Linked DNA regions of Homo sapiens: region 1 is linked to region 2. A link means that fine-mapping ties the variant in region 2 to the expression of a gene that starts in the linked region. Tissue or cell type: whole blood. Region 2 holds a variant in brackets; the other region holds the start of a gene. All regions are shown on one strand. Distances are between the middles of the regions.

What was found. PIP is the estimated chance that this variant, and not a neighbour inherited with it, causes the effect.
Region 1: DCTN5 starts here. The variant in region 2 is the best candidate, but not a certain one, in a credible set for the expression of DCTN5 in whole blood (INTERVAL, PIP 0.87).

Annotation. Positions count from the first base shown.
Region 1 is chr16:23,639,553-23,643,676 of GRCh38, forward strand. It overlaps DCTN5 (dynactin subunit 5), which reads left to right and starts at 1,914. Exons shown (of 6, transcript NM_032486.4): 1 at 1,914-2,038; 2 at 3,403-3,471. The coding sequence starts at 1,991. PALB2 (partner and localizer of BRCA2) reads right to left here and starts at 1,758. Exons shown (of 13, transcript NM_024675.4): 1 at 1,558-1,758. The coding sequence starts at 1,605. RefSeq lists a silencer at 825-1,059 and an enhancer at 2,187-2,976.
Region 2 is chr16:23,695,214-23,699,465 of GRCh38, forward strand. It overlaps ERN2 (endoplasmic reticulum to nucleus signaling 2), which reads right to left. Exons shown (of 22, transcript NM_033266.4): 14 at 681-765; 15 at 1-176. Among named protein-coding and RNA genes, the nearest start is that of ERN2, 16 kb to the right of the region's middle. The variant A/C (reference allele first, on the strand shown) is at 1,689.

The DNA.
Region 1 (4,124 bases), 56 kb before region 2:
CTCACACCTGTAATCCCAGCACTTTGGAAGGCCAAGGCGGGCAGATTACCTGAGGTCAGGAGTTCAAAACCAGCCTGGCCAACATGGAGAAACCCTGTCTCTACTAAAAATACAAAAATTAGCCCGGCGTGGTGTTGGGCGTCTGTAATCCCAACTACTCGGGAGGCTGAGGCAGGAGAATCGCTTGAACCTGAGAGGCGGAGGTTGCAGTGAGCCAAGATCGAGCCACTGCACTCCAGCCTGGGAGATAGAGCGGAGAGTCTGTCTCAAAAACAAACAAAACAAAACCTATGTGCAAAACATGCTACTAGACAAGTTGCCAACCGTAAGGAATTTTCTTTTTTTTTGAGAGACAGTCTCACTCTGTCGTCCAGCCTGGCGTGCAGTGGCGCGATCTCGGCAGCTCCCTGCAACCTCAGCGTCCCCTGGTTCAAGCGATTCTCGTGCATCAGCCTCTGAGGCCTGAGCCTCTGGGACTACAGGCTGGCGTCACCACACCCGGCTAATTTTTGTATTTTTAGTAGAGACGGGGTTTCACTACGTTGCCTAGGCTGGTCTCAAACTCTGAGCTCAAGCGATCTGCCCATCTCGGCCTCCCAAAGTGCGGGGATTACAGGCGTGAGCCAGGGAGACTGGCCTCCCACCAATCTTATCAATGTCTGGGGATTATCTTGTTTACTTATAAATGATCTTTCTCACCTCCACCAGAAGGTAAGCCAGGATAAGAATAACATCAGCACAAGCTGGAAACATCCTAAAAGTCTATCAGTAAAGTACAGTCTAAAGAAGCAAGGGCACTTCCAAGGCCAGGTGCAGTGGCGGGTTCGTGTAATCCCAGCTACTCGGGAGGCTGAGGCAGGAGAGTCGCTTGATCCCAGGAAGCGGAGGTTGCAGTGAGCCGAGATCGCGCCACTGCACCCCAGCATGGGTGGCAGAGTGAGACTCTGTCTCAAAAAAGAAGAAAAACAGAAAAGGAAGAAAAAAGAAACAAAACGAGGGCACTTCCAAACTACAACATACTGTCTAGAACTTAAAAAAGAAAGCAAGGTAGATAAACATGTCCTGACAGGAAAGCTAAACGGAACCTGCAGAACCATTCAGATCATACCATTTATGAACATTCCCTTCTCCAAAAAATATACATAGGATTCCTTTTTGGTGGTTAGGGATACGCCCCTCCTCCACCACCCACATTAACACACGAAAGGACCTGGAAGTACCAGACTTAAAAGATTTACTTGAGGCCGTCCGGGGGGAGAAGTAAAGATTGAGGGTGTGGGAGGGGGGAGGAGCAAGGGTGTCGATACAGCTTTATCTACAAACTGTTACACATTGTATTAATGCGCTGCTACTGTAATGAAATTTGTTCTTTAAACGCCACCACGTGAGCACCACGCTATTTCCACATTTTCATTTTCTGTGCCCCCTCAGCCCTAAGAGGAGGGGGTGGTCAGATGATACTGCTGCCCTCGGACTGCCGAGGACACAAAGCCAGGCCTAAAACCCTGGGAAAGCGGGGTCAGAGTCCTGCGTCCGCCCTTCCCGCACCCCCGGCACCTTTTCCTTCTCCTCACAGCTGAGGGGCTTCCCGGGAGGCTCGTCCATCGGGCAGGCGACAGAACGAAAAGAGCAGCCGTCGCCGACCCCAGGCCTGCCGACACCGGGACCCAGTTGGCCCTGGGCCGGGGAGGCGCCCCAGGAAGGAATGGGGAGCCCGGGATCGCACCCTCAGTGCGCGATCAGCTGACCCACGCGGGCCAAGCGCGCCCTAAACTCCGGCCAATTAAATCCACCATTCGGCCTGCGCACGCGCAGCCGTAGACGGCCGAGCAGTGGAGCGAGGCCGCCTAAAGGAGAGCCGCGCTGTCGATGAGTCCCAGTGGGCCACCTGGAGCGGAAGTGGAGGAGCGGCCGGAAGTAGCCGGAATCTCTGAAAGACTGACCGACTGACTCTGACAGGATCCGGGGCTGAGGGAAGGAGGCGGCGGCCATGGAGTTGGGCGAGCTGCTCTACAACAAGTCTGAGTACATCGAGACGGTGCGCGGGTCCAGATATGTATCCTCCTCTTTCCAACCCTGCGTCCCTTTGAGGCCTGGTCGGCGTTCCCAACCTGCCCCTACCCCACCAACCCCTGTCCCTTTGGCCATTAGTCCCGGATTATCTAGCGATGCCCCGTGTACCGTCTGGCTTTGCTGTTTACTCCGCGCTTGGCCAGTTGAGGCCTTTTGTATTTATTCCTGATTTTCTCATAGGGGTAAAGTGCCTTCGGGAGGATAGGACAAGTCCCATCCTGTTCATACGAATTACAGCTCGGACTTCGGGCCCTTTTACACTGCCTTTTGTATCTGTTAACTTGCGCTAAAAACGATTCGGTTCTTTTTTTTTGAGGAAGGGGGTTGGGGGGCGGAGACTCTGTCGCCCAGTCCTGAGGGCCGCGGCGCGATCTCTGCTCACTGCAACCTCCGCCTCCCGGGTTCAAGCGATTCTCCTGCCTCAGCGTCTCGAGTAGCTGGGATTACAGGCGCCCGCCACCACGCCCGGCTAATTTTTGTATTTTTTGGTAGAGACGGGGTTTCACCGTGTTGGCCAGGCAGGTCCCTAACTCTTGACCTCAGGTGATCGACCCGCCTCGGCCTCCCAAAGTGCTGGCATTACAGGCGTGAGCCACCGCACCCTGCCGATTTGGTTCTTTATGATCAGTACATGATATGTTTGTAAAATCTTGGAAACAGGGCAAGTGGTCAATTAACGTTACTATCGTTATTTTGGTTTTCTTTGCTTTCTCACAACTCTGATACTCATAGTCATTATCCTCGTTTTAAGGCCGTAAAGCCCACGCGTGGAAGTGGGATTTGAATCCGCGTCTGTCTGATGCCACCAAGCTATAGACATTCAAATTATGAGTTTATTCCTTGAGTCCCTAGTTTCCTTTGTGTTTTTATTTTTTGAGACAGGTTCTCACTCTGTTGCCCAGGCTGGAGTGCAGTGGCACAATCACAGCTCATTGCAGCCTCGGCCTTCCAGGCTCAAGCGATCCTCTAGCCTCAGCCTTCTGAGGAGCTGGGACTACAGACACGCGCCACCATGCCCGGCTAATTAAAAAATTTTTTTTTTGTTGAGAAGGGGTCTCACTATGTTGCCTAGGCTGGTCTTGAGCTCCTGTCCTCAAGGGATCCGTCTGCCTCAGCCTCTCAAAGTGCTGAGATTACAGGCATGAGCCACCATACTCAGCCATAGTTTCCTAATCCATCATTGCTTTTTTGATATCCTGGACTCACTCCATTGTGGACAGCACCCCACTTTATGTTTTTTTCTCTCAAATGGGAGCTTTCTTGATGGAAACCTGTAGTCCAGAAACCTATTAAGTTTGCTTTCCCCGGTTTTCCGTTGTTTTCTTTTAGGCATCTGGGAACAAAGTCAGTCGCCAGTCAGTGTTGTGTGGAAGCCAGAACATCGTTCTCAATGGCAAGGTAAGGGACAAAGCCAGCTCCAGGCTGCAAACCTTAGCTTGCGTTCTGCTAATTGTCACCACAGCAGGGCAGATAAAATGTTGCCATATCTCCTATTTATTGTTTACATTTTTAATTCTCTTGTTTTTAAATTTTTTATTTTGTAAATTGGATCTCCTTTTTGTTTTTTTTTTGTTTCGGTTTTTTTTGAGACAGTCTCACTCTGTCGCCCAGGCTGGAGTGCAGTGGCCCCATCTCAGGTCGCTGCAACCTCCGTCTCCCAGGTTCAACCAGTTCTCCTGCCTCAGCCTCCCGAGTAGCTGGGATTACAGGCAGCTGCCACCAAGCCCGGCTAATATTTTGTATTTTTAGTAGAGACAGGGTTTCATCATGTTGGCCAGGCTGGTCTTGAACTCCTGCCCTCAAGTGATCCACCCACCTCGGCCTCCCAAAGTGCTGGGATTATAGGTGTGAGCCACTGCACCCAGCCTAAGTTGGATCTCTTGAATGCAAAAAGGTTCAATAAGAGGCAACAGAAAACCTTTTTTCTTTTATGCCAGGAACAAAATACAGTGGTACCTAGAACCAACATTATTTTATGATATAGTGTGCATTAAACTACTGGGCACAAAGTGTAACAGGTAATGAAATATTTGAAGGTAGAAACTAAAGTA
Region 2 (4,252 bases):
CCCGGCAGAGCTCCAGGGCAATGTAGTGGAACTGGGGTCCCCGCTCGGTGCAGAAGTAGCGGAGCACGTTGGGGTGCCTGTCAGACTCCTGCAGCAGTTGAACTTCCCGCCGAACCAGGCCAAAGCACTCGCGGAGGAGCCGCTTGACAGCCACTGCCCGTCCCTCAAACTGTCCCCTGGAAAGTGGGTGATGGCGGGGGCAGGGGGGCATTCAGGGAAAGCAGATAAAGGGACAAACATGGTGGCTCACACCTGTAATCCTAGCACTTTGGGAGGCCAAGGCGGGCGGGTCACTTGAGGTCAGGAGTTCGAGACCAGCCTGGCCAACATGGTGAAACCCCCATCTCTACTAAAAAAAATATAAAAATTAGCCGGGCATGGTGATACACACCTGTAATCCCAGCTACTGGGAAGGCTGAGGCCCGGAATTGCTTGAACCTGGGAAGCGGAGGTTGCAGTGAGCTGAGATTGCACCACTGCCCTCCAGCCTGGGCAACAGAGCAAGACTCAAAAAAAAAAAAAAAAAAAAAAAAACAGATAAAGGAAAGAGCAGGACTGGCGAGTGAGGGATCAACCTGTACCCACCTCGGGGAGTCTTTGAAAGAATGTCTCTCCAGGGGACAGTGCCCACGAGGGCTGTGAGTGCCATGTCCCCAGCTTGGCTCCTGGCTGCCACTCACCGGAAAACGAAAGTCCCGCCTGCCCCGCGGCCCAGCACGTCCTTGGGATTGAAGGAAATCTTCCCCACTACGGTGAGTTGCTCAGCTGGGGGAGAGGAGGGTGGTGACTCAGGGAGCCTCTGCCCACCTTTGCCGGCCACTGGCCCAGTCCAGACTCACCTTGACATTTTCTGGGCCTCCACCCTCCCATGCTCAGCCTGGTGCAGTGGGTAAGAGCAAGGGCCCAAGTGCCAGACTGTCTGGATCCAATGCCTGGTGCTGCCACTGATTCTTTGTCTACTTAGGCAAATTCCTCACTTCTGTGCCCTCGGTATTCTCATCTGTAGAGTGGGGAGCTAAAGCTAAAGAGCCCACACAATATTATTGTGAGGATTAAATGGATATATGGAAAGAACGGGTGGAGGTGATGTTTGCTATATTATCCTCTTTTATTTCTCTCCCTCTTTCAGCATCTTCTGCACAGGTTTGTTTTGTTTTGCTTTGTTTTCCCTTTACATCCTCTGCCATTCTGCCCACCTCCACCAGTTGTAACTGAATCCTTTTAATTGACACTGAATCAGCTTCAACTTCAAGGTAAGGTGAGTTCTGGCAGTTGGAAGAGTGATGAGAGTGAGTATAGCCACAGAAAAAAGACTGGACCGGACAGAAGCAGTGGGCATTGGATGCTAACCTGCCCAGAGTTAGTTCCAGGGCAGCAGGGGTACCCCTAGAGGCCTCGGTTTCCCATTAGGATGGGTGGGGTCGGCTCAGGTGGGCAAAGATCTGTAGGTTGGGACAATTACTGCCCTTCCCTTTGGGCAGCCTGTGAGAGACGTCTCACTCTGACCCTGGCAAATCTGGGCAGGCTGTGTCCTGCTCAGCTCCAACGGGCACTATTCATATGGCAAAACATATATGGCACCCCTAGAGTTGTGCAGTGCGGTGGTCCTGAGAACACTCTACTTTATAAGAGTTTTTAGCTTCAGTTTTTACAATCAGCTCTGGGAAGAGTAAATGAAAATCAGCATT[A/C]GGGCTGGGCACCGTGGCTCACACCTGTAATCCCAGCACTTTGGGAGGCCGGGAAAGGTGGATCACTTGAGTTCAAGACCAGCCTGGGAACATGATGAAACCCCATCTTTACAAAAAAAACTAGCCAGGCATGGTGTTGTGTGCCTGTCATCCAGCTACTCAGTAGGCTGAGGTGGGAGGATTGGCTTGAGCCTGGGAAGCAGATGTTGCAGTGAGCTGAGATCACGCCACTACATTTCAGCCTGAGTGACACAGCAAGACCCTATCTCAATAATTAATAATAATAATAATAATAATAATAATAATAATAATAAAATCAGCATTAGGGATCAGTGAGAAAACACCAAGTTGCACCTTAGCATTCCTCTGGATTATTTGCTTAGAGTTCATACTCATCTGTCAGTAAGATGCAGGCAGTACCTTTGGTATACACTGGACTTTCTGGAGTAGATGGGCTCAGGCAGGGCCTTGCTGGAAGTACATCACCCACACATAGGAAAAACAGGCAGATCAGAGAGCAGGGACAGAGCTGCTTGAACAAACCCTGCTCATCTGACTGCAGGTGACAGTCACCCTTCTGGGCCCTCTTTGTGTCACTGGCTCTGCTGGACTCAGAGGCTCTTGTGTGTCTGCTCTCAGTACTCTCGGCATGGAGTAAACACTTGCTTAGAGTTTCCTGGATTAGATGTTCAGAAGCACCCTCGAAGAGACAGGCCAGACTTAAGGCCACAAAGGCCTTCAATGCAGATATATGAGCTGGGGAGGCTCAGTCTGCACACACAGATATTTGTTATCACTTTGCTTAGCCTTTTGCATAATTATAATGGAGAGGCAGCAAATGTGGGAGTTTTTGTCGTTGTTGTTGTTGTTTTAGAAACAGGGGCTCACTCTGTCACCCAGGCTAGAGTGCACTGGCGTGATCATAGCTCACTGTAACCTCGAACTCCTGGGCTCAAGCAATCCTCCTGCCTCAGCCCCCCAAGCAGCTGGATTACAGGCATGTGCCTCCATGCCTGGCTAATCTTTTTGTATTTTTAATTTTTGTAGAGATGGGGCTTCACTATGTTGCCCAGGCTGGGCTCAAGCAATCCTCCCACCTAAGCCTCCCAAGCTCAATTCTAAAGTAATCAAAAATCTCGTGTCAGGGAGAAAGGGCATACAGTCAGAATTACCTCTGGAAATCCTGCATACACATGATGGACTTTGCTGCTGCTTCTACACAGGTTGGGGAACACTTACAGTCAGTCACATTCTTTCACAGGTATTTGCCAGGTATTGTTCAAACAGGGGCACCATCCCACAGAAATTAGGGCACTTGCTGGAGCCAGCCACATGCATTTGGACCCCTGAGCTGCCACTTATTAGCTTTGTGAGCCGGGGGTAAGGATGGGAGTTGTCACTAGACCTTTCTGCCTTAGTTTCCTCTTCCATAAAAGGAGAATTCTATAATAACATTCACCTCACAGGAATGTTATCTCATGAGTTAATGCATTCAAAGGATTCAGAACACTGCCTGGTATAGCCTGGTATACAGTAAGCGCTATAGAAATGTTATCCCTGGTTCAGGCTGGATTGCATCCACTTGTTATTGAATACATGATGCAGCCAGAGGTCCTGAGGGAGGCCCAGCCAAGCACATGTAGATGAATTTGTGTAAGTTTTTGTTTTTGTTTTTTGTGGGTTTTTTGTTTTGTTTTGTTTTGAGGTGGAGTCTTGCTCTGTTGCCCAGGCTGGAGTGCAGTGGCGCAATCTTGGCTCATTGCAACCTCTGCCTCTTGGGTTTAAGCAATTCTTGTACCTCAGCCACCCCCCAGTAGCTGGAACTACAGGCACCCACCACCACACCAGACTCATTTTTGTATTTTTAGTAGAGATGTGGTTTCACCATGTTAGCCATGCTGGTCTCGAACCCCTGACCTCAAGTGATCCCCCTGCCTTGGCCTCCCAAAGTGCTGGGATTACAGGCATGAGCCACCGTGCCCAGCCAAATTTATTCAAGTTAAATGAAAGTTGGCTGTGACTCCACTGTAATTTTGTGAACCATAAAATAGTCCATGAGGACTTTGACAAGAATGATCCTGGGGAAAGATGGAGTCCTGGTTGTCCAGGTAAAGATGAGCCAGACTCAACTCGAGTCCGAAGGTCCAGGGAGATGGGCGTTTTGGGGTACAGTGGGGTGAGTATTACTTGGACCCACCCAGGGCCAGTAAAATGACAAAAACTACAACAGCTCAGGGCTCAGGAAATCCTGCTGCAGGGCCCTCTAAAAGAGCTGACCCCTGAGGAAGGGGAGCTGTTTTCCTCTGGGCTAAGGCACAATGACCACAGAGGCGGACATTGCGAACAGCACTGGAGTATCAAGCCAAGTGTGGCATAGACTTCCGCCTGAGAAGGTGACGGCAGGGTGGGGCCAAGGTATGAGGAAGTGGCTTGAGCAGTGACTAGAAGGTGCCAGCACAAGTTCACAAAGACAACCAAAACCATGAGCCAGCCCAGAGCCAATCAAGCAGAAGTAGCCTGGGCTGATTGGTAAAGGCATGCAAGAAGCCCCTGGAACATTCCAG